7 linked regions of the Homo sapiens genome follow. The protein of the gene in region 4 interacts with the protein of the main gene of each other region in a biochemical or structural test. Each region holds a gene or a part of one and is shown on either strand. Other genes may lie near its edges.

Region 1 (2,849 bases), on a different chromosome or scaffold from region 4:
AACCTCCTGGACCAGCTTTCTTGAGCTCTAGGGAATATGCTATTTTGAGAGCTTAGGATCTCACTAACCTTGCATTCATTCAAAGTCATCTCCTAGCTTTTTTCAAAACATCGACATTTGCTTCATACACAGAAGATGTTTCCTGCACAACTTTAAATCAGCCACCAACTTTCCCTGAAACTTTAAAACAGTCTATTTTTTGTCGTTGTTGTTGTCTATACATATTATTTAAAGAGGCTACTACCAGCATACTTGTGCTTGCTTGATAATGTATTGGAATGTAAGATGTCAAGATTTTGTGAGATGTGAATGACAAAGCAGGATTAGGCACTGAGAGCTTGGGCGGGAATGTCATGGTTATGGAGGCTGCACTGTGCTAGGCTATCCAAGGAGAGAGTTGGAAGAAAGACTTAATTCTTTTTCTTCACATAAACAGATTATTTACCATTTAAAATGTACTGAATATGGCCTTCATAAACAGATGTAGGGATTTTTGTTACACCCATAATCCCAAGGAGAGGTCAAGATTTCCAGCATTTATTTGGCACTTAGTTACTTAATACTTTATCCACCGTTTGGTTTCCTGTCTGATGGCCACATTGTAACCCTCTTGAAGGAAGACAGTGTCCTATATGTCTTAATTGATGGTGATATGGGAGAACCACTGATCCCTGCAGTCATTCCAGTGTCCTAGGTTTGAAATTTTGGTGAGAGGATTGGATCTCATTTTTCACCTTTTGTGGCAGGAAAAGGAGAGGGAGGAGAAAGGATGAGAACATTTTAGTAGCAGAAGCTGTTTTGGGTGGCTTTAATTCTCTACTCATTTTGGGAAAAAAGGGAAAGTGTTGAGACAATGCATAAAGAACAGAGCTATCATGGGAATTGCAAGAAATAATAAATTTCCATCTGGCATTATTTGGTAAGTGCAGAAGTAATACCTGTAAACCAGGTTTAAAAATCAGAAACACTTCTAAAACATCATGTTTAAAATTTGCTTTCAACAATACATAAAGTAACTCCTAATGGTAATCATCTTGGCTAAATAAAACAGCCTTTGCTTTCAATATGTCATTTGTAAATGTTACATTGTTCTGATATTTAGTGATATTAAGTATTTTTCCATTTTAAATGTATTTTATAGAAGAATGATTAAAACCTTTTAAAATTAAGGGTGTCCATGACAGTGCCTGAGCTCAACCAGCAATGGTAAAAGGGCATCAGGATTCCCTTTTGTTCTGTTACCTTGACTTGTATGGGAATTAACTGGTCCAATGTCTCCTTTGGAATGTGCTCTGTACTGGTGTAATGTGCCACTGGCAACTCTAGGTAATGTTTTCCATTACCCAAGAAACTGATGTGCTCCAATAAGTTAGGCACACTGAGAATCTTGAAAAAGAATGCATAATTCTAACAAACTAGAATTTCCATTTTATTCAGCCGGGCCATCAGAACAATAGCATCTATACCTTCGAAACCTCCTCTTAACCTCTCCCAGGCAAAGAAGGAAAAAGTGATCATATTGAATTCCTCAGAATGGTGGGATCTCAAGACTTTTTAGAAAGTGCTTATTAAGTATAAGAGGCTTGAAATATAATGATGATAAATGGTAGCCTTTCTGGAAATAATTTTTGTGTAATCTGTTTAAAAAGATTTTTTGGATGCATTGTCCCCATTTGTTTACAGGAAGTGTATTACTTTTAAATATAATCAATGAGGTATTTATTTGTTAAATAACTGGGTCAAGATTTCAGATTAAACTAAGAGGTGTGATTAACTACACTTCTCCATCCTCTGGGAAGCAACAGGTACCAGGTTTGTGATGAACCTGAGGTTCAAATGTGTCCGTCTTAGAAGAAAGATCCCTGAATCACAGCAGTGTGATTGGATGGAAAAACACGTGGAGTAGTTGATTTAAAATATGGCAGTGTTTTCCATATCATCCAGAGTAACAGCAATAATAACTTGACTTTATTGTGTTGTGTCCATTTACAGGACACTGTCTATTAGGATTGTGTCACAGGGGTGGAAAAACTACCAGAGATTTAAAGCAAAATAAGAAACGCAACCTAATTTATGCATTCACTAGAAATTATCCATATTTTTGCTATAACTAAACTATAAAAGAAAAAGAGCAAACAAATCATAACATCTGGCTCTAATTCCCCATTGAGGCGCTTATACATATATAAATCCAGTATGTTTCAGATAAAACAGGAAAAAATCTTTTGTAACAGCTGGTCACCATGGTATTGCAGCTGATAGTTACAGCTATTGGTCTAAGACTACATACGTGGAACAATATTAGCTTGTAGAATTCAATGAAAAATCAAACTACCTTCCCTGGTTCTTTAATGCCTCTCTCCAGTTGTGCTGATTGTGTCGTTACACACCAGGTGCCATGCACTCTCTTCCTTCAACTGCTGGTATCAGTCAGGAACCCCAGATGCCAGAGAGCTGGCATAGATTGAGCTCTGCTTAAAAACTGGCAAATAATAGGTTCTCTTTGCCCCTTTCTTTTCCGACTTATAGGACATCAAAGGAAATAGTATATAAACACGAACTAGTTTCTGTAACAGCCCATTAAGGTTGACTAGAAGCAAAAGGAAGAGAATGTTGGGGGCCATCTGTAGGTGCATTAGCTTTTCTCAAGAAAAAAAATACCCACGTTCTAAGGGCTCTTAAAAACGTAGAAAACTTGCCCTGTTACCACGGGTCTTTAGAACACCTCTAAACACACACAAAATAAGACAGATAGTACCTACAAATTTCAACCATTGCTTAAACTCTAAAAGCATTTTTTGTATTATTTTGTTTTGATACAGAAGGGAAAACTCAGCTATAAAGAAATA
Region 2 (3,500 bases), on a different chromosome or scaffold from region 4:
ATCAAAGAGGCAGTTATCCCCACCGCTTGCTGCAAATGGAGATTGTGATGGGAACTTGCTGTCCCAGTGGAAGTGATACTGCTAGAGGGCATCCGGCCACACTAGAGAGGGCCTGGGCTTTGCAATCAGCTTATGGAGAGGCAGTGTAGCACAGTCAGGAGCTTGGCCTCTGGAGCTTGATAGCATGGATTCAAATCGCACACCTGCCTTTCACTTGCGGCCTCAGGCAAGCCATTCAACTTCTCTTTATCTCAGTTTCCCCAACTATATAATAGTATAATCACGATAATAATATTGCTTGAGAACTCAATGACTTGATACATGTAAAGCATCTAGAATAGTACCTGGTGCCCAGTAGACACTGAGATGCTAGTTACTGTCATGTTATTCAAATTCTGGCTCTGCCACTTGCTAGATGTGTGACCTCTCTGAGCCTTGGCTTTCTCAGCTTCCTCAGCTGTAAAATGGGAGATCCTATTATAACTTATCCCATACAATTGGTAAGTGAAATAATTTGACAATGAATGAAAAACAAGCTGGTATGAAGGACGTGAGTGCATGCTGATTTCAGTCTTCACAGCACTGAACAGGAGACAATTAGTTCACCAACCTCGTCCAGGGGCATTAGGAGCAGGATCTCAGCCCTACTTCAGATAGCTACCACCACAAGTACCTGAGTCATCAGAGCGATGGCATCTTAACCCATGCTGCAAGTTTTTCCCATTTCTTGAGGGGGGTGGAGTAGGAGTGGAAGGTTCAGATGATGGGCAGAAATGGGCATGTGGTGTCTCCTAGGCAGCCATCCACGTGTCGGAATGCCTAGTATCTAAGCAGACCTGCTTAGCTGGTCTAACAAGCATTAGGAACCCAAGGTATCCCTCCCTCAGAGTACAAAAAATAGAGGCATGGTGTAGGCACAGCCTCACCCGCATGCATTACTGCTGCCAATTGCTGCAACCTGCAAATCGTACCTCCATCTCTTATAGAGCTGCTGGTCCTGGGCTGACACCGCTGCAGCCGTCATCTCCTCACTTCCCCCGCCCCACTCACCCCCAATCTCAGCCCCCTTTGTCTACTGTCTATCTGTGAGTCCTTCTTCCAGCAAAAGTCTCTCAAGCTAAGCCAAAATGTCCCTTTAAGAGATGATAACTCACTTATAAGATGATTACAATCTGGCAGTCACTGCTCTGAGTCTTAAATGTGTTACATCACTTAATCCCCACAACCAACTTATGAAGTAGGTGTTGTTACTACCCCCATGCTTTTAGATGGGAAAGCTTAGGCATTGTAAGTTCGGGGGAAGAAATTCAAAACCAGGCAGTCTGGTTCCAGCTTCGGTGCCCTTAAAACCATTATTTTATATTTCCTCTCCTCTTTTTTTCAACATTATGAATATATTCAAACATACAAAAATGTTGAAAGAAGTTCACAGTGATCACCCATATACCCAGCACCTAGATTCTACAATTAACATTTTGATATATTTGCCTTATCATATATCCATTTACTCCTCTATCCATCTACCAATCCATCTTAAAATCCTGGTGCATTTTAAAGTAAGTTGAAAACAACTATATCCCCATAAATTTTAAAATGTAAATGAAATGGACAAATTTCTTGAAAGACACAAACTACTAAAGCTTACTCAAGGAGAAATAGATGACCTAAATGTCCCCAAATCTATTAAAGAAATTGAATTTGTAGTTAAAAAGCTTTCTACCAAAAAACCTCCAGGCCCAGATGGCTTCAGTGATGAATTCAAGCAAACATTTAAGGAAGACATTTTATACAAACTCTTCCTGAAAATAAAAGAGAAGGGAATACATCCCAACTCATTTTTTAAGGCTAGCATTACCTTGATACAAACAAACAAAAAAAACAAAAAACAGAAAAAGATGTTATAATAAAACTATAGACTAAAATCCCTGATAAACATAAGGGCAAAATCCTTAACAAAATATTAGCAAATCTAGTAACATATAAAAGGATAATACATCATGACCAAGTGGGATTTATCCTGGCAATGCTAGGCTTCTATTTATTTTAAAAATCAATCAATGTCATTCACCACATCAGTAGACTAAAAGAGAAAAACTATATGATCATCTCAACAGATACAGAAAAAGCATTTGAAAAAAAATACAACATCCACTTCTGATGAAAACTCTCAGTAAACTAAGAATAAAAGAGATTTTCCTCAATTAAAGGGCACCTACAAAAAAATCCTACAGCTAACATCAAACTTTATAGTCAAAGATTAAGAAAAAAGCTACAATGTCCACTCTTACCATTTCCTCCAAACATTGTATTGAAGGTGAGAGTGCAATAAGGCTCTTCTCTCTCCCAGAAAAGGGCATGTACAGGAGAAAGGAAGACACTAAATTCTATTTGGAGATGGCATGATTGTGTATGTAGAAAATGTTTTATAATCCACCAAAAAGCTATTAGAACTAATAAGTGAGTTTGGCAAGGTTGCAGGATACAATGTCAATACACAAAATTCAATTATATTTCTATAGACTAGTAATCAAGAATTTCAACTTGACATTAAGAAAATAATACTCTTTATAATAGCATCTAAAAACATAAAATCTTAGGGACAAATATCCCTGGTGGTTGGGTGGCTAGGATTCGGCGCTTTCATAAAATCTCAGGGACAAATATAACAAAATATGTACAAGATTTGTATGCTGAAAACATAAGTTGAATACAGCAGTATACTTCAAACACACTTCAGCATACATATTAAATAAAGTTTAATATTTGTTTACAACATTTTTAGGCAAAATTTACTTCCAGTGAAATGCACAAATACTAAGTGCATTGGCTGTCTAGGAGCCTTGCTATACATTTGTTGAGTTCTGACAGGTACATATGTTTAACTCAAACTCTTACCAAGATATAGAACATTGTCACCACCCCACAAGTTCCCTCTGCCCTTTTCCAGTCAATCTCTGTGCCACCTCCCATTGGCGAGCAGTGTTCTGAATTTGTTCCCCCATAGAATAGCTGTTTTAGAATTTCATATAAAAGGAATTGTAGAGTTCATAGTCTTTTGTGTAAGGCTTCTATCACCCTTGAAGTTCCTTTTTACCAAGGATATATATTGAGCAAATTCAGATACTAAGTCATTTCAAAAGTGTCTGTGTATGCAACAGCTGAACACAGGAATTAACTTCTGGTTTGAATGCACCGGCCAAAAGATGGCATCAGGGATGCCATGGGGAAGTAATCTGGCAGTGAGTAGGCAAGGACCTAGGGAGTCCTCCCAGAAGTAGCCTGGGGGATGGTGGTAGCTTGTGTTATGGTAATAGGTCATAACCGGGATATAAGAGCAGCCAGTTTAGACCTGGGTCTCCAACAGAGACAGGATGGAGAAAGGGGAAAGGATTTGTCTTTTTAAAAACCCAACAAGTCAGATCTCTGAAAGCAAAGCCTGGGGATATTTGCAAGTTTTGCATCTCTAAATACTTCTGAAGTAGAAAATGGGAGGCAATAAG
Region 3 (3,500 bases), on a different chromosome or scaffold from region 4:
GCCCGGCTAATTTTTGTATTTTTAGTAGAGACGGGATTTCACCGTGTTAGCCAGGAAGGTCTCCATCTCCTGACCTCGTGATCTGCCCACCTCAGCCGGCGTGAGCTACTGCGCCTGGCCTGAAATAACTTAATTCTTTTAATAATTTATCTGGTTATTCACATTTCTGAAAATCACTTACTTAAGTCAAATATGAATAAAACAATGACTAAATGTATTTTGTCAGAAAATAATAGTTTATGAAATAATAGATTAGCTATCACTTTCTGCAAATAATGGGTTTCTAATGTTTGTTGACTTAAATTCATATATTGAATTAAATTTACTAGTGAAATATCAGATCATTTAATAGTCATTTGTGATATCTTAGGGTAATAAAATTTTAAAATATGTATATGTTTTTGATTGAACAGACACAACATGACAATCTAATGATTAAGAAGATATGGGTCCTACATTTTGGGTCTTTCCAGTATTGTCAACAGTGTAGGAGTTTTCGATGGGAAATAGCCATAGTCATCAAAAATCCATTTATTTAGTTTTAAAATATACTAAAATATTTTCATTGTAATGTGGAGTACATCTGCCTCTTAAGTTTGTGTATATTAATAATTGTATCCTCAGTGCTTTGCACATGAAAGGCATTCAGTAAATGTTTGTTAAATAAATGAATAAATACAGTAAGGCTACTCAGTGAGGCCTGCTTTCCAGATTCTGTTCTGACGCCCTCTTTTCAACTCTTCAGTTCATCACTATTTGCTATGAGCCTCTTCAAGACAAGCATCTTGACCTAGCATCAACCTAAACAGATTTGTCTGCCCTTCCTCCCTCCCTTCCTTCCTTCCTTCATTTTTCCTTTCTTAAACTAGAATGTAAGTGTAGGTGAATAAAGTTTTCCCATACAAGTCATTTCCTCAGCTAAGGTAGGAAAAGTGAGAGACAATTCAGGTAGTTGGGTAAAAGTTCTTCAAATTGTAGATCTTAAGCTTCAGATAGCTTTATTGGGAAGTAGGCTTTATGCAGAATAAATCATTAAAGAAATTGAGAAGATAGAAGAGCAAATTTGAATGAAGTTGATAATTCATGATAGTATTATTACAAATATAAAGCTGAGTAGGTTTTTGCTGTTTTTATTGTTGAGTTTTTAAAAACAGTACTGCTTAATAAATGTAAAAAGTATTTATTTTTAAAGATGATGTGGTTTGGGGGGGCCACATAATTGTGTTTGCAGATCTTGCATTACGATGTTTGGTTGAAACCTATGCTGCCAGTTTTGAGGAAAGGAATGAAGAACCTTTAGCCAAACGCATAAAGAATGATAAAACAGAAAAAGAAATTTACACTTTGGCCAAGGAAGGAAATGAAAAAAATGTCCCAGAGAAGTGGAACCCTGTGGCTGGCATTGTTATTGCACTCTGTTGTCACCACAGGTGTGATTGGAGACATTATGTGGGCAAAGAATATTTCAGGGCTCTAGGCCTTGGAGCAGTGGAATTCCATTATTTCCAGCGAATGAGTAGTTGGGCAACTTGTGGGATGCGGAAAACATCTTTGGAAACCTCAAATAGTACCACAAAGAGGCAAGATAATCAGAATGATGATAGTGAAGAGCATGATGATGGAGGATACAGAATCACAGATGATGGCGCTGATTGTTTGCCTGGGTAAGAGACTACTTTTGTAATGCATGATACTAAAGGAGAAATATTATATTGTACTGTACTTTAGATGACTATTATCAACAATTCATGAAAATGTATTTTATAATCTAATTTTAGAATAAGCTAAAATATACACATCTTTTATTGTGGTCATAAATATAATGTGTCTTGGAAGCATGGGACAAAGTACTTAGTACATTATGGGTTAGTTAACAGTCTCTCAATAAATAGTGACAAAAATAATTTTTTATAAACTTTTGCAAAATTTTAACAATGTTTTGTGTGTGTTTATTCAATTTAGGCTTCTTAGTGTTGAAGAAAAGAAGAAAATAGGGCATCTTTGTAAATTGCTGATTGACCAAGGTCGAATCCAGTATTTGCAGCAGAAGGGATTCAGTCCTGCTTTGCAGTACTATACAGACCCTCTGGTGTCTTTGGAAAATGTTTTGTTAACTGCTTTACCAAATCATTCTTCATCACCAGAAACAACTGCTTAATGGAAAAGAAATTTGAGCATCATCTGTCTTCCACCAAAAAAAATTTTTTAATTATATTTTTATATCAAAAAAATATATACTTTAAATAGCAAATAATATGAACTTTAAAAAATGCTGTGGCCTCATTAAACTTTGGTAATAGCTTTTCTTTTTACTTCAGAAATCCAAACATTAGAGAATTCACCAAAGTAATCCTCTTTAGAAGGGCATCTTGAATTATATTATCCATCCGTATTTATGGAGATTGGTAAAGTAGTTGAACCGTTGACTTGGTGATCTGAAACATACATAACATGTCAACACATAATTAGCGTATTTCTGTTTGTATTAATTTTGGAAATTTATCTTCCTTTGATTTTATTTAATATTTTTTATTTCTTAAGTTCAAGAGGTAGTGATTGATTGTAACAAGGGCCAATCTGAGAATTTGACTTATATGTGGACATTTTTCCCTACAGATCTGGAAAGCACAATTGTGATTTTCTCAAATGCAGACAATTCAGAGATATTCACAATTAATAAACACAATTAATTAATGAAGTCACCTTCAAATTTCCAGAGCCATACATGTATATATTGTCAGAATCTGTCCATGACAAACACAAAACTGAAGAGCTGTTTTCAAAGAAAAAAGATTATTTCACTTAATTATTTTGTTGGATAATTGTCTAGTTAGAACTTCCAAAAAGATACTTACAAACATAATTCACAAATTTGAAATAATTTCTGAAGTTGATTAGCTATCTCATATCTTTTATCAGGTCATTTTTTATATATGTAGGCACAAACAATAAGTATGTTCTCTTCTGTTTGGGAAAATAATTTGGAATAAAATAGAAATTAGATAATGAAACCAAAAACCTTCTCAAATTTAGGCCTTATTTAACTCATGACTGGTTTCTATGCACAAGAAAATACTAAACCAAATATATGGTAGGACTGTTATTCTCTTCTGCATCTTATCCCTATTTTGTTTCTGCCTTTATTTGTAAAAATTGTCTTAATTGATGGTACATTTGCCAAGACAAAGGTTCAGAATTACTAATTTTAGATATTATGATATTCTGAAATAACTATTTTTATCCTGTAGTTCTATGATTATATGATTTGTAAATAAGAAGCCTAACCAATTTAAAATTCCTGACTTTAGTCTCATATATCTTGTCAGACTGTCTCGGTTCAAATTCCAAACCTACCATCTTCAGTTGTGCGACCTTGGGCATGCTACCTAATCTCTTTGTGCCTCAATTTCCTCCTTTTAAAATGGGGATGATGATGATAACAATAATACCTACCTCACAAGGTTGTTGTGAGCATCAAATGAGATAACACAAGTAAAATG
Region 4 (3,500 bases):
CTGGGATTACAGGCGTGAGCCACCGCGCCCAGCCAATCTTAATCTTTTTTAGCAGAGAATTGCACTTCACAAAGAAAGGAAAGAAAATGTTGCACAGAACCCCCTTATATATAACAGAGGGATGAAGCTGCTCTGAAGTTGTGCTAGATCACCTCTCCCTGCTCTCTGTCCCTGGTGGTGTTCCTGGAATCACTTCTTCCCCCAGCATTTTGATATTCTCTGCAAAGTTGTTAGGGAGGGTGACAATACCTCAAATTTGGGCTGTACACATTTACAAAATCCATTCACTATGTCACCCCAGCAGGTCCCCAGCATGCCCTGTGGGGCAGGCAGGGTGTCAGGCATTCCACCACCACTGAATAGACCTCAGTCTCAGGTTATCTGACTTCAGGATGTTCCATTTCCCTTCCCTCCTCTCCCCCAACCCTAGGCGCTACCAGTCTAACTGGGCTGGGCTTCCCTAGGTGAGCAGCAGGCCATGAGACAGGCTGACAGTACATCTGACCCTGACACCCAGGTTGCCCCCATCCTTGCCATCCTCACTCACATTTAGTGACACACTATGCCAGGTACTAGGCTACGCTCTTTATATTTCTTACCTTCCCTTAATCCTCATAATAACCTTGTGAGATACTAAGAATCAGTATTGCCAGTTTTAGATGAAGAAATTGAGGCCCAGAGAGGTTAAGGAACTTGCCCAAGGACACAAAACCAGGAGGTAGTAGAGCTGGATCCTGCAGCCAGGGCTCTTGGCTATGCTATCAAGACTCCACAGCAGGGGGTCTCCTTCATGTTGAAAATGACTCCTCCCTGACATGTTGCACTGAGATTTTCTAGAAATTGGACTCATATTCTTTACAGAGGCAGCTTGGGATGATAGAATGAATGGATTTGGAGATGTATTCCCACTTACTAGCTCTGTCTGAGCCTCAGTGACCTCAAGTGTAAAGAGGGAATAATGTGAAGACCGATTCAGATGACAGATGCTATGTGCCTCGTTACCCCTAAAGGGGAGGAAGATTCCTTATGGAGAAGGTATTATCTTTTTTTTTTTTTTTTTTTTGAGATGGAGTCTTGCTCTGTTGCCCAGGCTGGAGTGCAGTGGTACGATCTCGGGTCACTGCAAGCTCCGCCTCCTGGGTTCACGCCATTCTCCTGCCTCAGCCTCCTGAGTAGCTGGGACTACAGGCACCCGCCACCACACCCAGCTAATTTTTTGTATTTTTTTAGTAGAGATGGGGTTTCACCACATTAGCCAGGATGGTCTCGATCTCCTGACCTCATGATCTGCCCACCTCAGCCTCCCAAAGTGCTGGGATTACAGGCGTGAGCCACCATGCCCAACCGGTATTATCTTTTGAAGGCCTCACTGGCAGGATGGCTCCAGGGCAGGGCTGTGGAGGGTTTTATCTCTTCTTCCTTCAACAACATGGATGGATCCTATCTACCTGGTCCCTACTCACCCCCAGCACAGGGATTTCCAGCTCACCCAGCTCTGAAGGGTGGGTCACCTGGGAGTGGAAGGTGCAGAGTGGGAGCCACAGGCTGCCCCAGGCGGTCCAGGGGAACCAGGTGGGAAAGAGAGACTGGAGATGGGGCCAGGGTCTTAGGCCCTAAGGAAAACCTTCCTCTCCAGGTTGAGGCTGGAGTATGGGGTGGGGGGCAGAGGCGGGGTGTGGGTGCAGGGACTGCCTCAATGCAGTCCATCCTGCCCATACTGAGCTCAGGAATGGGGAGGGAGGCTGTGCTGACATGCTTCCTAGGGTTGGGGGAATGAGGCCTCTTTGCTGAGGAGCAGACTGAAATGTGGTGAGGCTTCTGGAACCTCACTCACTGGAAGAGGAAGCCAGCTGGACCTTGCCTGCAGGGTGCAGCTGGGTCTGCCCTGGCTAGGTGTTGAGGGCCCAGGCGGGAGAGGGCTGTGGGTAAGCAGTGGCAATGCTTTTTCTGTGCTGTGAGCCCAAAACGTTTTTCTGCTCTCAGGGAGCTGGAGGAGGGGGTGATAGAAGTGAGGTGGTGCATTCTCTTCCCTGTGCTCTGACTGCCTGGGCAATCTTTAGACAGTCACTCAGACACACTCTCAGCTTCCACCAAAGCGATGTGGGAGTACAGGGGTCCCCCAAGGCAGCCACGGGCCAAGTGAGCAGCTACTTCTAGGCTGTGTCACCCTAGAGTCTCTGCCCAGCACCCTCTGAATGACTCCTTCAAGATCCCCCACCCTAATCAAACCAAGACGGAATTGCCCCCCAATACAAATCAAGCCAAGCTGTTTTTCAAGAAAGTAATTGTAGCTAAACCTGAAACCTGAACCTGAAAACCCAGCTACCAGGTCACCTGTTTTGTCCTGAGGGCTGACCTAGGTCCAGGTTCAGCAAACTTATGCCAAGGGAGGTATTTCAGATGTCAAATCACTGGTCAGAGTGCAACTGAAAGCATCTTGCAGTCAAAGGCGAGGTGACCCACTCCCACCTCTCCCCGCCCAGGTACCCCCACCCCCACTCTGCGTCTTATGCAGGCCTTGGGCAGTCAAGGCCTGGCGGAGCCCCACCCTGCACAGCTGCAAATATTTATAGCCATGTCCCTTTTCCAGCCCTGTCGAGGGTTCTGCTGTGCTTGCTCCCTAGCTCTGTGAACACCCTGCTGAGAATTCAAATCTGGGCCATCAAGAAGTTCAGGAACAAGTCTCCCAAAAAAACTGAAATTGTACTGCTCTAATGTTAAAGTCACCTTTTGCATTTCTCTGGCTAGGAGTGAGGGGAACTGGGAAGAATGAATTCCTGACACACCTTTCTTTGGGTTTTTTTTGGCTTTTGCAGTGCCTGCATCTACCTACAGCCCGTCCCCAGGGGCCAATTACAGTCCCACTCCCTACACCCCCTCCCCTGCCCCTGCCTACACCCCCTCCCCTGCCCCTGCCTACACCCCCTCACCTGTCCCCACCTACACTCCATCCCCAGCACCAGCCTATACCCCCTCACCTGCCCCCAACTATAACCCTGCACCCTCGGTGGCCTACAGCGGGGGCCCTGCGGAGCCTGCCAGCCGTCCACCCTGGGTGACAGATGATAGCTTCTCCCAGAAGTTTGCCCCGGGCAAGAGCACCACCTCCATCAGCAAGCAGACCCTGCCCCGGGGAGGCCCAGCCTACACCCCAGCGGGTCCTCAGGTGCCACCACTTGCCAGGGGGACCGTCCAGAGGGCTGAGCGATTCCCAGCCAGCAGCCGGACTCCACTCTGCGGTCACTGCAACAATGTCATCCGGTATGGTCCAGCTGTGCCCCTGCACTGGGGCACTGGAAGGGCGTGTGTGTGGGGTGCTTGCCCACAGTCTGAGCCCTGGTTGGGAGAGATGGGGGTAGGAGGCAGGTGTAGGGAGAAAGCCTCGGGTCCTTCTGGCTTGCCATCTGGTCTTACCTCTCTGAGCCTTAGCTGCCATACCTGTGTGACACCCACTCTCCCAGGGAGCTGGGAGGAATGGCATGAGGTATGTGGGTGAAGCT
Region 5 (3,500 bases), about 19 Mb from region 4:
AAACCTTCTAAATCCAACAATCTTACCTGCTGGTTTGGTCTGACATCACTGAAAGTTATTTTTTTCCCCAAGTCTCGAATCACTGCGTTCTTAGTTTCACGAATGTTATCATCATTCACTGGTTGAGGAGACTTTGTATTTTTCTTCGCTAATCCCTGGGATGGCCTGTAAGATAAATCCACACCTGACACACCCATGAAAAGCACTGGCCAGGGTAAAAAGGCCTAGAAATCAGAGTGGTTGAAATGACAACCAGAAACCAGCGGTCATTAGGCACTTAGGGAATTAAGCCCTGTGCAGAGAATCGGTATTTGTAAAGGTCTTTTTGATACTTTAATTTAAAAAATTTTTTTTTTGAGACAGAGTCTCTGTCATCCAGGCTGGAGTGCAGTGGTGTGATCTCGGCTCACTGCAACCTCCGCCTCTTGGGTTCAATGATTCTCCTGCCTCAGCCTCCTGAGTAGCTGGGATTACAGGCATGCACCAACACGCCCAGCTAATTTTTTGTGCTTCTCCTAGAGACGGGGGTTTCACCATGTTGCCCAGGCTGCTGTCAAACACCAGAACTCAAGTGATCTGCCTTCCTCGGCCTCCCAAAGTGCTGGGATTACAGGCATGAGTTACCACACCTAGCCTGATATTTTAATTATTAATAATCATTCAAAGTAATCATCCCCTTTGTCCTGAAGTGTTCCACATCCATTCTGTGCCTAAGAGAATAAGATTATCTAGGAATCCACAAAATGAGAGCCCTGTTTCAGATCAAGCTATTCAATGTGCACATCGACTCTTAACTAGCATCTTACATCAAGAAACCTCAATGACACTTACATGGATGGTGCACTTCTAGGCAGCCCCATGGCATTTGTGGGTGGGATGGCAGGGAGAGAAGGCAGAACAGAGCTGAGGAAAGCCACTGGGTTCTGAATCCGGCTGGTAGGAGAGACAGGAATTGGGGACACACAGCGGGGCTGAAACTGGTTTCCGCTGGGGATGGAAAATGTGAATGGTGGTGGTGTTGGTTCTGTTGGGCCTGGTGGGAGTGGCTCATTTTGGATGGAAAGCCCTCCTGGAGATTTGGTTTGCACAGAGGGGTGAGACACTAAGAGGCTTTCTTTGCTCACTGTCCTCTGAATAGTTTGAGGAGTGCTGCTCAAAGTGAACACCGGAGAGCTGGAAGGGGCCACAGTTGCTGCGGTGGTGTTCGTGGAGGGGAAGAAATACTTCGGCCGGGCCAAGCTGAACGTCTGTGATGAAGGAGCCTTCACCTGCTTACTGGATGTTGTCACCGCTGGGGGAGCATTGGAGTTCAAAACAGTCATGCTGAAAGGAAACTCCTTAGGAGATGAAGGAGGTGGGTTTTGCAATTGGTGTTGTTCCAGTAAGACTTGGTTATGAAGCTGTTGTAACTGAGTGGAATCACTGTACACAAAACAAGGGTGGAGAGAGAGAAGGAAATGTGTTATTATTGGCCTCACCTTTCAAACAATGTTCAGACAGACTGTTTATAACTTGATGATAGGCGGGGCATGGTGGCTCATGCCTGTAATCCCAGCACTTTGGGAGGCGGAGACAGGTGGATCACTTGAGTCCAGGAGTTTGAGACCAGCCTGGGCAACATGGTGAAACCCCGTCTCTAACAAAAAAAAAAAAAATTATATATACATATATATTAGCCAGACATGGTGGTGCACGCCTGTAGCCCCAGCTACTCAGGAGGCTGTGGTGGGAGGATTGCTTTAGTGATCCCAGGAGGATCCCAGGAAGATCACTTGAGATCCCAGGCTTGAGCCTGGAGGCGGAGATTGCAGTGAGTCCTGATCTTGCCACCTCACTCCAGCTTCAGTGACAGAGTGAGACTCATCTCAATAAATAAATAAATAAATAAATAAATAAATAAATAAATAAATAAAATAACTTGATGTTGATAAAGAACACACAACCAGAGTGGCAAGAAATCAGCTGATCAATAATTGGTGAGTTTGTCTTTCCTTCTTTCCAAGGGCGTCCTTCACACTGTATTCTTTGTATTGCGACCTTGGAGTTGTGCAACAAAGAGTTTATAAATTGGAAAAGAGAAATAGAGACAATGTTTCTCTTGTAGGCAGTGCTCAAAGTTCTGATGACCAGAGGAAAGTATCCCAGCTTCAGAACAGAAGGCACTGAGCTACATGCCAGTGTGAGTTACTGAAAAGGGCTGAATTCTCCATGAGAACATGCTGTATTCTCCACTCTGCCTTGTTTTAGAGCCGACCTTAACAAAGAAGCCGGATGTGTCTCAGAGAGGTTTCTCATTCTCTCGCGATAACAAACCTTTATAGATAAGGTGACCATATGTCCCCATACATTCAGGAAGGTCCTGGTTTAACATCTTTTCCTGGCATCATTATTTTTGTTTTTGTTTTTCTTTTTTTTGAGACAGAGTCTCACTCTGTTGCCCAGGCTGGAGTGCAGTAGTGCGATCTTGGCTCACTGCAACCTCTGCCTCCTGGGTTCAAGTGATTCTTGTGCTTCAGCCTCCCAAGTAGCTGGGACCACAGGTGTCTGCCACCATGCCCGGCTAATTTTTGTATTTTTAGTAGAGACAGGGTTTCACCATTTTGGCCAGGCTGGTCTTGAACTCCTGACCTCAAATGATCTGCCCGTCTTGGCCTCCCAAACTGGTGGGATTACAGGCGCGAGCCACCGTGCCCGGCCCTGACATCATTATTAATAGAACTCACTTTCACTCTCAGAAATGTCCTAATTTGAATGATGATTATATGCTCACCCTGATTATAAACCTTGCCTTAGACTTTTATTGTTCCTAAAAGGAGAAAGATCAAACTGGAAGCAGTTTCTCCATTTATAGAACCTGAGTCACAGAGGCATCACGTGATTTGCCTTAATGGTCCATTGAATTCAATGGTCTATTGAATTTCTCTTCACAAAAGAGTTATTTTTTAACAAAGAAAGTGCAACAAAAATGTCTTAAAATCATATATGCATAAAGTCATTAAGGCTGTCAAACTTTGATGTTTAGGAGAATCTACTGTTGAATGAGTAACCACGGGAAGACCCATAAGTGAGATCACAGTGCTTCAGGACCACTAATTATATGTTCTTTATTCTATTTTTATTTATTTAATTATTTTAGGCAGAGTCTTACTCTGTCACCTAGGCTGGAGTACAGTGGCACAATCACGGCTCACTGTAGCCCCAACCTCCTGAGTTCAAGTGATCCTCCTGCCTTAGCCTCCCAAGTAGCTGGGACCACAGGTGCGTGCCTCCACACCCAGCAATTTTTTATATTTTTTGTAGAGTTGGGGGTCTCGTCATGTTGCCCAGGCTGGTCTCAAACTCCTGAGCTCAAGCAATTTGCCCGCCTTGGCCTCCAAAAGTGCTAGAATTACAGGCAAGCGCCTTGCTGGTTTTATGTTCTTTGGAAATATGTGTTGCTTTTGGGACACAAAGACTCTGCATTATAAGGAATATAAAAGAAATTATTAAGGATTTTGAAT
Region 6 (3,500 bases), on a different chromosome or scaffold from region 4:
CTGGACCACGCGGCGGACATTCTGGAATTGCAGCACGCTCTTGTTGGATTCGGTGAGGAAAATGGTGACATAGTATGGCAGAATGGCCAACAAGTCAATGGCATTGAGTGGGCCCTTGAAGAACTTCCACTTCTTGGGCGAGGAGAGGAACCTCAGCAGGTACTCCATGGTGAACCATGCGATGCACACGGCCTCCACGTGGGCCAGCTGGGGGTTGTCTGTGGACTGGCCGAACTCATCGAGGCTCTGTAGCTCAGGCAGCGTGTTGAGGGACAGGGCAATGGTGGAGAGGACGATGAACATGATGGAAATTATGGCAAGGATCTGTGAGGAGAAGAGAGTGGGATTTAGTTATCAACCACCCCACAGGATGATCATCATAATATCCTGGATCTACAGGGCACTCCTCAATGTTCAAGAGCATTTTCACATTTCACTAGTCATTTAATGAGCCAAAAAGAGAATTTGTTGTAATCCATTTATTGTCTAGATGTGGAAACCAAGGCCCAGAGAAATGAAATGTTTTAAAGCTATCAGCAAGCCCAGGGTTCAAGCATACTTTTTCAGATAGTAACCATTTTATAGGCCCTGAAACCCTGCATTGTCTGTCACAACGACTCGACTCTGCAGCTGTAGCATAAAACCAACCTTGGATAATACATACATGAATGGGCATAGCTGTGTTTCAATAAAACTTTATTTACAAAAATAGGCAGTGGACTGAATTTGGCCTGTGAACCATGATTTGCTGACTTCTGATCTAGACCAGTGGCTCACACTGGATGGGGAACTACCTTCACAGAGATGATACTAATGATAATAACTATCCTTGATTGAGTGTTCATTGTGTGCTAGGCACTTTCCATGAAATAGCTCATTTCATTCTTATAATAACCCCGTTCAGTGCTATTAGCTCCATTGAACAGATGCGGACACTTGGGTTTCCACAGCTAGTAAGTGGAAGAGCCAGCATTTTAACCCAGGTCTGTGTGACCCAAGAACATGAGCTCTTAAGGCTGTGTTAAAAATCAGATTTGGCTGGGTATGGTGCCTCATGTCTGTAATCCCAGCACTTTGGGAGACCTAGGCAGGAGGATCGTTTGAGGCCAGGAGTTCGAGTCTAGCCTGGGCAACATAGTGAGACTCTGTCTCTATAGAAGAACAAAGGGGAAAAAAATCAGATGAAAGCTAACCTTTTGCTAGAAAAATGCCTAGACACTCAAGATTTTGCAGGTAATTCCTAGGGAGGCACAGACATTCTGGGCCCATGTTAACTCCTGATTGGAACTATGTGCTTTTGGGGGCTAAAGACCTTGGCTTAACTACCTTTGAGTCCCCTGGATCAAGAAGAGAGCTTGGCCCAGAGAAAGGGCTCAATGGATATATGTTGAAATTAATGGAATCTAGGCCAGTAGGCCAGTCTACAGACTATGCAGAAAAGCAAACAGATGTAATCAATTGCTCTGAGGGTCTTTTTTTTTTTTTTCAAAAATACAAATCCAATCACATTACTCCTTTGTTTAATAAATCTCCAGGGCTCCTCATGAAAAAATCCAAACCCCTAAACCTGTCTATTGGGTCCCCTATACCTGTCTTGCTTTTGTAGATTTTCCCTTTCTCTTCCTCTGCCCCTGCTAAGTGGGAAGGGGGGGGCCTGGTCACCATGGTTGTATCATTTGATCCTGCCTGCCAATGATCAGAGCATGAAGTTTGGATAAAAAAATCCAAGTTAAGCCAATCCGTACACTGGGGCTTAGCCAGCCTACCTTTGAGAAATTTGAGTTCAGGAACCCAGGCGGTGAGTGGGTTACGGGAGGGTAAGTCCCTGAATTAAATGTTAAGTAGAATCTAGGCTTGAATCAGCTTCATGATAAGCCCAACCCTCAAGCAACTGTCTCCCAAATGTAGGGGACAGAGATGCCATAAAAACATCAGAGAAAGCTGAGCCTTAGCCTAGACATGGTGGCTTACATTTGTAATCCCAACACTTTGGGAGGCTAAGGTGGGGGGATTGCTTGAGCCCAGGAGTTCGAGACCAGCCTGGGCAACACAGTGAGACCCCGTCTCTACAAAAAATAAAAAAATCTGCTGGGTGTATTGGCACATGTCTATAGTCCCAGCTACTTGGAAGGCTGAGGCGGGAGAATCTCTTGAGCCCAAGGAGGTTGAGGCTGTGGTGAGCCATGACCACACCACTGCACTCCAGCCTGGGTGACAGAGAGAGAAACCCTGTCTTGAAAGAAAACAAAAGAAAAGAAAAAGGAAAAAAAAAAAAGAAACGAAATTAGCCGGGCATAGTGGCGGCACCTGTATTCCCAGCTACTTGGCAGGTGAGGCAGGAGAATGGCTTGAACCCGGCAGGCAGAGGTTGCAGTGAGCCGAGATTGCACGACTGCGCTCCAGCCTGGGCGACAGAGTGAGATTCCATCTCAAAAAACAAACAAACAAACAAACAAACAAACGAAAGAAAAAGACAAAGAAAGCTGAACCTTCAAGAGAAGCCAGAGAATGAAGGGAAGGTGCAGATGAAGGAGGAGTGGGGACCGCAGGAGGGTCATAGCAGGGTGCCGAGGGCAGCAGTTAAGAGCTGAGGCTCTGGTGTCAGCCTGTTTGAGGTTCAAGCCTCAGCTCTGCCATTTCCTTACATTGAGCATGTTATTTAACCTCTCTAAGCCCCAGTTTCCTCATCTAGCAAATGGGCTGATAATAACAGTATCTACCTCAGAGAACTGCTGTGAAGATGAAATGTGTTAGCACAGGCAAAGTGCTAGGACAGCTTCCAGCAGCACACGGTGAGTGTCTAATAGATGCCAGCTGTCATCACAGGGGAAATCTCAGCCCACATCACCCCACCCACTCAGATCACCAGCCTCGGGGTGGCCCGGTCTCGGTCTTTGCCTCCTGTCCTTGTTCTGAGACTGTCTGCTGTATCCTGTAAGTCAACCCAATTGCTACATGGGTGAGTGTGGGAGGTTTCTGGCCCTGCAATGAATCCCCAGTAAGGACACTTGGTTGTCAAGTCCTTCTCATTTTGACTCTGACCTCTCTCTCTGGCCACTCCTGCCATCGGTTCTCAAAATTCACACTCCTCTAGCCGCACACTATCATTGGTCAATTCTGCATGTCCGAGCTTCTTGCTTGCTGTCTGGTGAACTCCAATCCATCTTTTCAAATCCAGCCCATGTGACCCCTTCCCTTTGGAGTTCTCCCTGCTTTCCCCAGGCAGGGTTGACTGCTCCATCCTTGGGTTTCCTCACCATTTTACCATACCTTGGGGATACTTACCACTCATATCCCATCACAGGTGCGTGCGTGTGTGTGTGTGCATGCGTGTGTGTGTGTGCACGTGAGTGAGTGTGCTTATTGCTGCCCAGAATTGGTGAGTACTGGGAGGATGGGGATGGGTTCTGAGGTTTATCTATGTGCCCCCAGCACCTAACCCAGGGTGGGACACCTGACAGGTGCTCACCAAGTATTTGTTGGCCGTTGCTCAAGTTCAT
Region 7 (3,500 bases), on a different chromosome or scaffold from region 4:
TGGCTCCTGCAGGTCCTTCAGCCAGACGTGTTGTCCCCTATGAGCAGCCAGGGTGGGGCCACCTGCCCTACACCCACCGGGGCCCTGAGCTCCTTAGGGATTTGCAGAACAGAGGGGAGAAGTGGAGATTCCAGGTGCATATTAGAGATAGAGCTGATGAAGCCTGGTGACCCAGTGGACTTGGTGGGGGGATGGTGAGGGAGAGAGAGGCGTCATGGCCACTGTGACTCTGGTGAGTTCAGGGGCTGCTCCCCACGCTGGGGAAGACTTGGGGAGGAGAGGTCTAAGGAGATGTGTGTGGGGATGAGACACCTATAATGGAACCGTCACGTGGGCAGTTGGAGGTGTAAGGCTGGAGGTCAGTGGGGGAGGCAGGACCAAGTGGAGATTTGGGGTCTGCAGTATTTGGAGGGAGCTGGGGCTGCAGGCAGGGGTGAGGCTGCCTGAGGGAGAGAGTGTGGACTGTGCCCGCCACATAGCAGGTACCACAAGTGATGGTGGCCAGATCATTGTGGGTGACCCTGGGAAGGGCAGTTTGGGCGGAGAAGAGGGAGAAAGCTGACTGGAATGTGTTGTAAGTGACTGGGAGGGAGAAAGCGGGGTCCCATTCTCAGATGTCAATACCCCAGGTTGTTCGTCAAGCCCTAAGCACAGTTTGTGAGGCCACGATGTGTGGGATTCCCTATGAGCTCCACGTGGGCAGAGACCACATATCTGCTCATAGCTGGTGTCAGCCAGCGCCTGGCACATGGTAGGTGCTCAGTAGTTATTTGTTGAATGAATGAAGTAATGAATGAATGAATGGGCACTTCTTCAGCCCTGTGGGAGCACGTCTACCAAGGAAAGGGGGGTGCAGCTCTGTGGCCCTGCATCAGCATGAGAACCAGGAGGGGTGCCTTGGAATTTTTATCACTGACCTTTACCTTCCACTCTCTACCCTCTTGGTGTTGGGAGTCAAGCTGCCATCCCAGAAGGCTCTTGTCGGACACGATTGCCTCCTTGTGGAGCCACTGTATGAGATGTAATTTTCTCCTGCTCTGAGGAGTGGCTGCAAATTGTTACTCCACTCCAAGCTGTTGGGTGGGAGAGATTTGTGGACTCAGCCTTCTTCTTAGTGTGGGTGCGGGCACCTGCTCACCACTGGGCCTCTGCTGTGCTCCTTTCTACAGTGGTCCCAATGACCAAACAACTACTAAGTGCAGGGCCTGTGTATGAATGATCCAGGCTCAGCCCTGCCCTCAAATGGCCTCCGTCCATCCATCTATCCATTCATCCATCCAGTTCATCCAATTAATCCACCTATCCATCCATTCAACCATCCATCCAACCATCCATCCATCCATTCCATCCATCCATCCATCCATTCATCCATCCATCCACCCATCCATCCATCCATCCATTCAACCATCCATTCAACCATCCATTCAGCCATCCATCCATCCATCCATCCATCCATCCATCCATCCATCCATTCCATCCATCCATCCATCCATGCATCCATCCATTCAACTATCCATTCGACCATCCATCCATCCATCCATTCCATCTATTCCAACTATCCATCAATCCATCCATCCATCCCATCCATCCATCAATTCCATTCATCCATCCATTCCATCCATCCATCCATTCAACCATCAAACCATCCATCCATCCATCCATCTATCCATTCCATCTATTCCAACCATCCATCCATTCCATCCATCCATCCATCCATCCATCCATTCCATCTATTCCAACCATCCATCCATTCCATCCATCCATCCATCCATCCATCCATCCATCCATCCATCCATCTTTTCCAACCATCTATCCATTCATCTATTCCAACCATCCATCCATCCATTCCATCCATTCAACTATCCATCCATCCATCCATCCATCCATTCAACCGTCCATCCATCCATCTATTCCAATCATCTATCCATCCATCCATTCATCCATTCCAACCATCCATCCATCCATCTATTCCAACCATCCATCCATCCGTCTATTCCAACCATCCATCCATCCATCCATCTATTCCAACCATCCATCCATCCATCTATTACAACCATCCATCCTTTCATTCCACCCATTCAACCATCCATCCATCTATCCATCCATTCAACCATCCATCCATCCATCCCTCCTTCCATTCCATCCATCCATCCATTCCAACCATCCATCCATCCATCCATTCCAACCATCCATCCATCCATTCATTCCAACCATCCATCCATCCATTCCATCCATCCATCCATCTATTCCAAACATCCATCCATTCCATCCATCCATCATCCATCCATCCATCTATTCCAAACATCCATCCATCCATCCGTCCGTCCATCCATCCATCCATCCATCCATCCATCCATCCATCCATCCATTCAACCATCCATTCAACCATCCATCCATCCATCCATCCATCCATCCATCCATCCATCCAACCATCCATTCAACCATCCATCCATCCATCCATCCATTCCATCCATCCATCCATCCATCCATCCATCCATCCATCCATCTATTCCAAACATCCATCCATCCGTCCATCCATCCATCCATCCATCCATCCAACCATCCATTCAACCATCCATTCAACCATCCATCCATCCATCCATCCATCCATCCATCCATCCATCCTTTCCATCTATCCATCTATCCATCCATCCATCCATCCATCCATCCACCCATCCATCCATCCATCTATTCCAACCATCCATCCATCCATCCATCCATCCATCCATCCACCCATCCATCCATCCATCTATTCCAACCATCCATCCATCCATCCATCCAACCATCCATTCAACAATCCATCCATCCATTCCATCCATCCATCCATTCCATCCATCCATCCATTCCAACCATCCATCCATCCATTCCATCTGTCCATCCATCCGTCCGTCCATCCACCCATCCATCCATCCATTCATCCATCCATCCATTTATTCCAACTATCCATTCATCCATCCATCCATCCATCCATCCAACCGTCCGTCCGTCTGTCCGTCCATCCATCCATCCATCCATCCATCCATCCATCCATCCATCCGTCCATCCATCTATTCCAACCATCCATCCATCTATCCATCCATTCAACCATCCATTCAATTCATCTATACAATCCAATCCATCTATCCACCAACTCACCCATCCACTCATCCAATCCACACATCTGTCAACCCATTTATTTATCTGTCTCTATCTATCTACCTACCTACCTACCTACCTACCTACCTACCTACCTATCTATCTATTTCTACTTACCTAACAATTCATCCATTCAACAAATATTTATTTAGCACCTACTATGTGCCAGGTGCTCGGCAAGGGCCACGCCTGATTTGTTTCAGGGCAGTGCTGACATTTCCTAACCTCCCACACATGCCGGCCCTCTGTGGGGACTGTGGACTCCCCTCTGATGAGTGGATCCTGGTCCCTGTCTTCCAGCAGACAGACACAAGCATTGATTCTGTCAGCCCATGAAGCAGACTGCGGCTGTGCGCTGTGTGTGC

Evidence for each region.
Region 1: the proteins of LDB3 (region 4) and CNTNAP2 interact in a test that uses a peptide from one of them, tested with the Homo sapiens proteins (one large-scale study listed by IntAct).
Region 2: the proteins of LDB3 (region 4) and SHROOM4 interact in a test that uses a peptide from one of them, tested with the Homo sapiens proteins (one large-scale study listed by IntAct).
Region 3: the proteins of LDB3 (region 4) and TRMT13 interact in a test that uses a peptide from one of them, tested with the Homo sapiens proteins (one large-scale study listed by IntAct).
Region 5: the proteins of LDB3 (region 4) and MYPN interact in a test that uses a peptide from one of them, tested with the Homo sapiens proteins (one large-scale study listed by IntAct).
Region 6: the proteins of LDB3 (region 4) and KCNB1 interact in a test that uses a peptide from one of them, tested with the Homo sapiens proteins (one large-scale study listed by IntAct).
Region 7: the proteins of LDB3 (region 4) and SLC22A12 interact in a test that uses a peptide from one of them, tested with the Homo sapiens proteins (one large-scale study listed by IntAct).

Annotation. Positions count from the first base shown.
Region 1 is NC_000007.14:148,415,801-148,418,649, reverse strand, and holds part of CNTNAP2 (contactin-associated protein-like 2 precursor), read right to left. Parts: 3' UTR 1-2,849. UniProt on the Homo sapiens protein: Required for gap junction formation. Required, with CNTNAP1, for radial and longitudinal organization of myelinated axons.
Region 2 is NC_000023.11:50,629,195-50,632,694, forward strand, and holds part of SHROOM4 (protein Shroom4), read right to left. Parts: intron 1-3,500. UniProt on the Homo sapiens protein: Probable regulator of cytoskeletal architecture that plays an important role in development. May regulate cellular and cytoskeletal architecture by modulating the spatial distribution of myosin II.
Region 3 is NC_000001.11:100,146,663-100,150,162, forward strand, and holds part of TRMT13 (tRNA:m(4)X modification enzyme TRM13 homolog), read left to right. Parts: coding exon of another isoform or gene 1-10; exon of another isoform or gene 11-1,231; coding exon 1,232-1,664; exon of another isoform or gene 1,665-1,962; coding exon 1,963-2,158; 3' UTR 2,159-2,379; coding exon of another isoform or gene 2,380-2,435; 3' UTR 2,436-2,705; coding exon of another isoform or gene 2,706-2,773; 3' UTR 2,774-3,500. Other genes in the region: LRRC39 (leucine-rich repeat-containing protein 39), read right to left, coding at 2,706-2,773. UniProt on the Homo sapiens protein: tRNA methylase which 2'-O-methylates cytidine(4) in tRNA(Pro) and tRNA(Gly)(GCC), and adenosine(4) in tRNA(His).
Region 4 is NC_000010.11:86,713,511-86,717,010, forward strand, and holds part of LDB3 (LIM domain-binding protein 3), read left to right. Parts: intron 1-2,816; coding exon 2,817-3,261; intron 3,262-3,500. UniProt on the Homo sapiens protein: May function as an adapter in striated muscle to couple protein kinase C-mediated signaling via its LIM domains to the cytoskeleton.
Region 5 is NC_000010.11:68,171,988-68,175,487, reverse strand, and holds part of MYPN (myopalladin), read right to left. Parts: intron 1,423-3,500; coding exon 832-1,422; intron 166-831; coding exon 27-165; intron 1-26. UniProt on the Homo sapiens protein: Component of the sarcomere that tethers together nebulin (skeletal muscle) and nebulette (cardiac muscle) to alpha-actinin, at the Z lines.
Region 6 is NC_000020.11:49,374,669-49,378,168, forward strand, and holds part of KCNB1 (potassium voltage-gated channel subfamily B member 1), read right to left. Parts: intron 325-3,500; coding exon 1-324. UniProt on the Homo sapiens protein: Voltage-gated potassium channel that mediates transmembrane potassium transport in excitable membranes, primarily in the brain, but also in the pancreas and cardiovascular system.
Region 7 is NC_000011.10:64,594,220-64,597,719, reverse strand, and holds part of SLC22A12 (solute carrier family 22 member 12), read right to left. Parts: intron 1-3,500. UniProt on the Homo sapiens protein: Electroneutral antiporter that translocates urate across the apical membrane of proximal tubular cells in exchange for monovalent organic or inorganic anions. Involved in renal reabsorption of urate and helps maintaining blood levels of uric acid.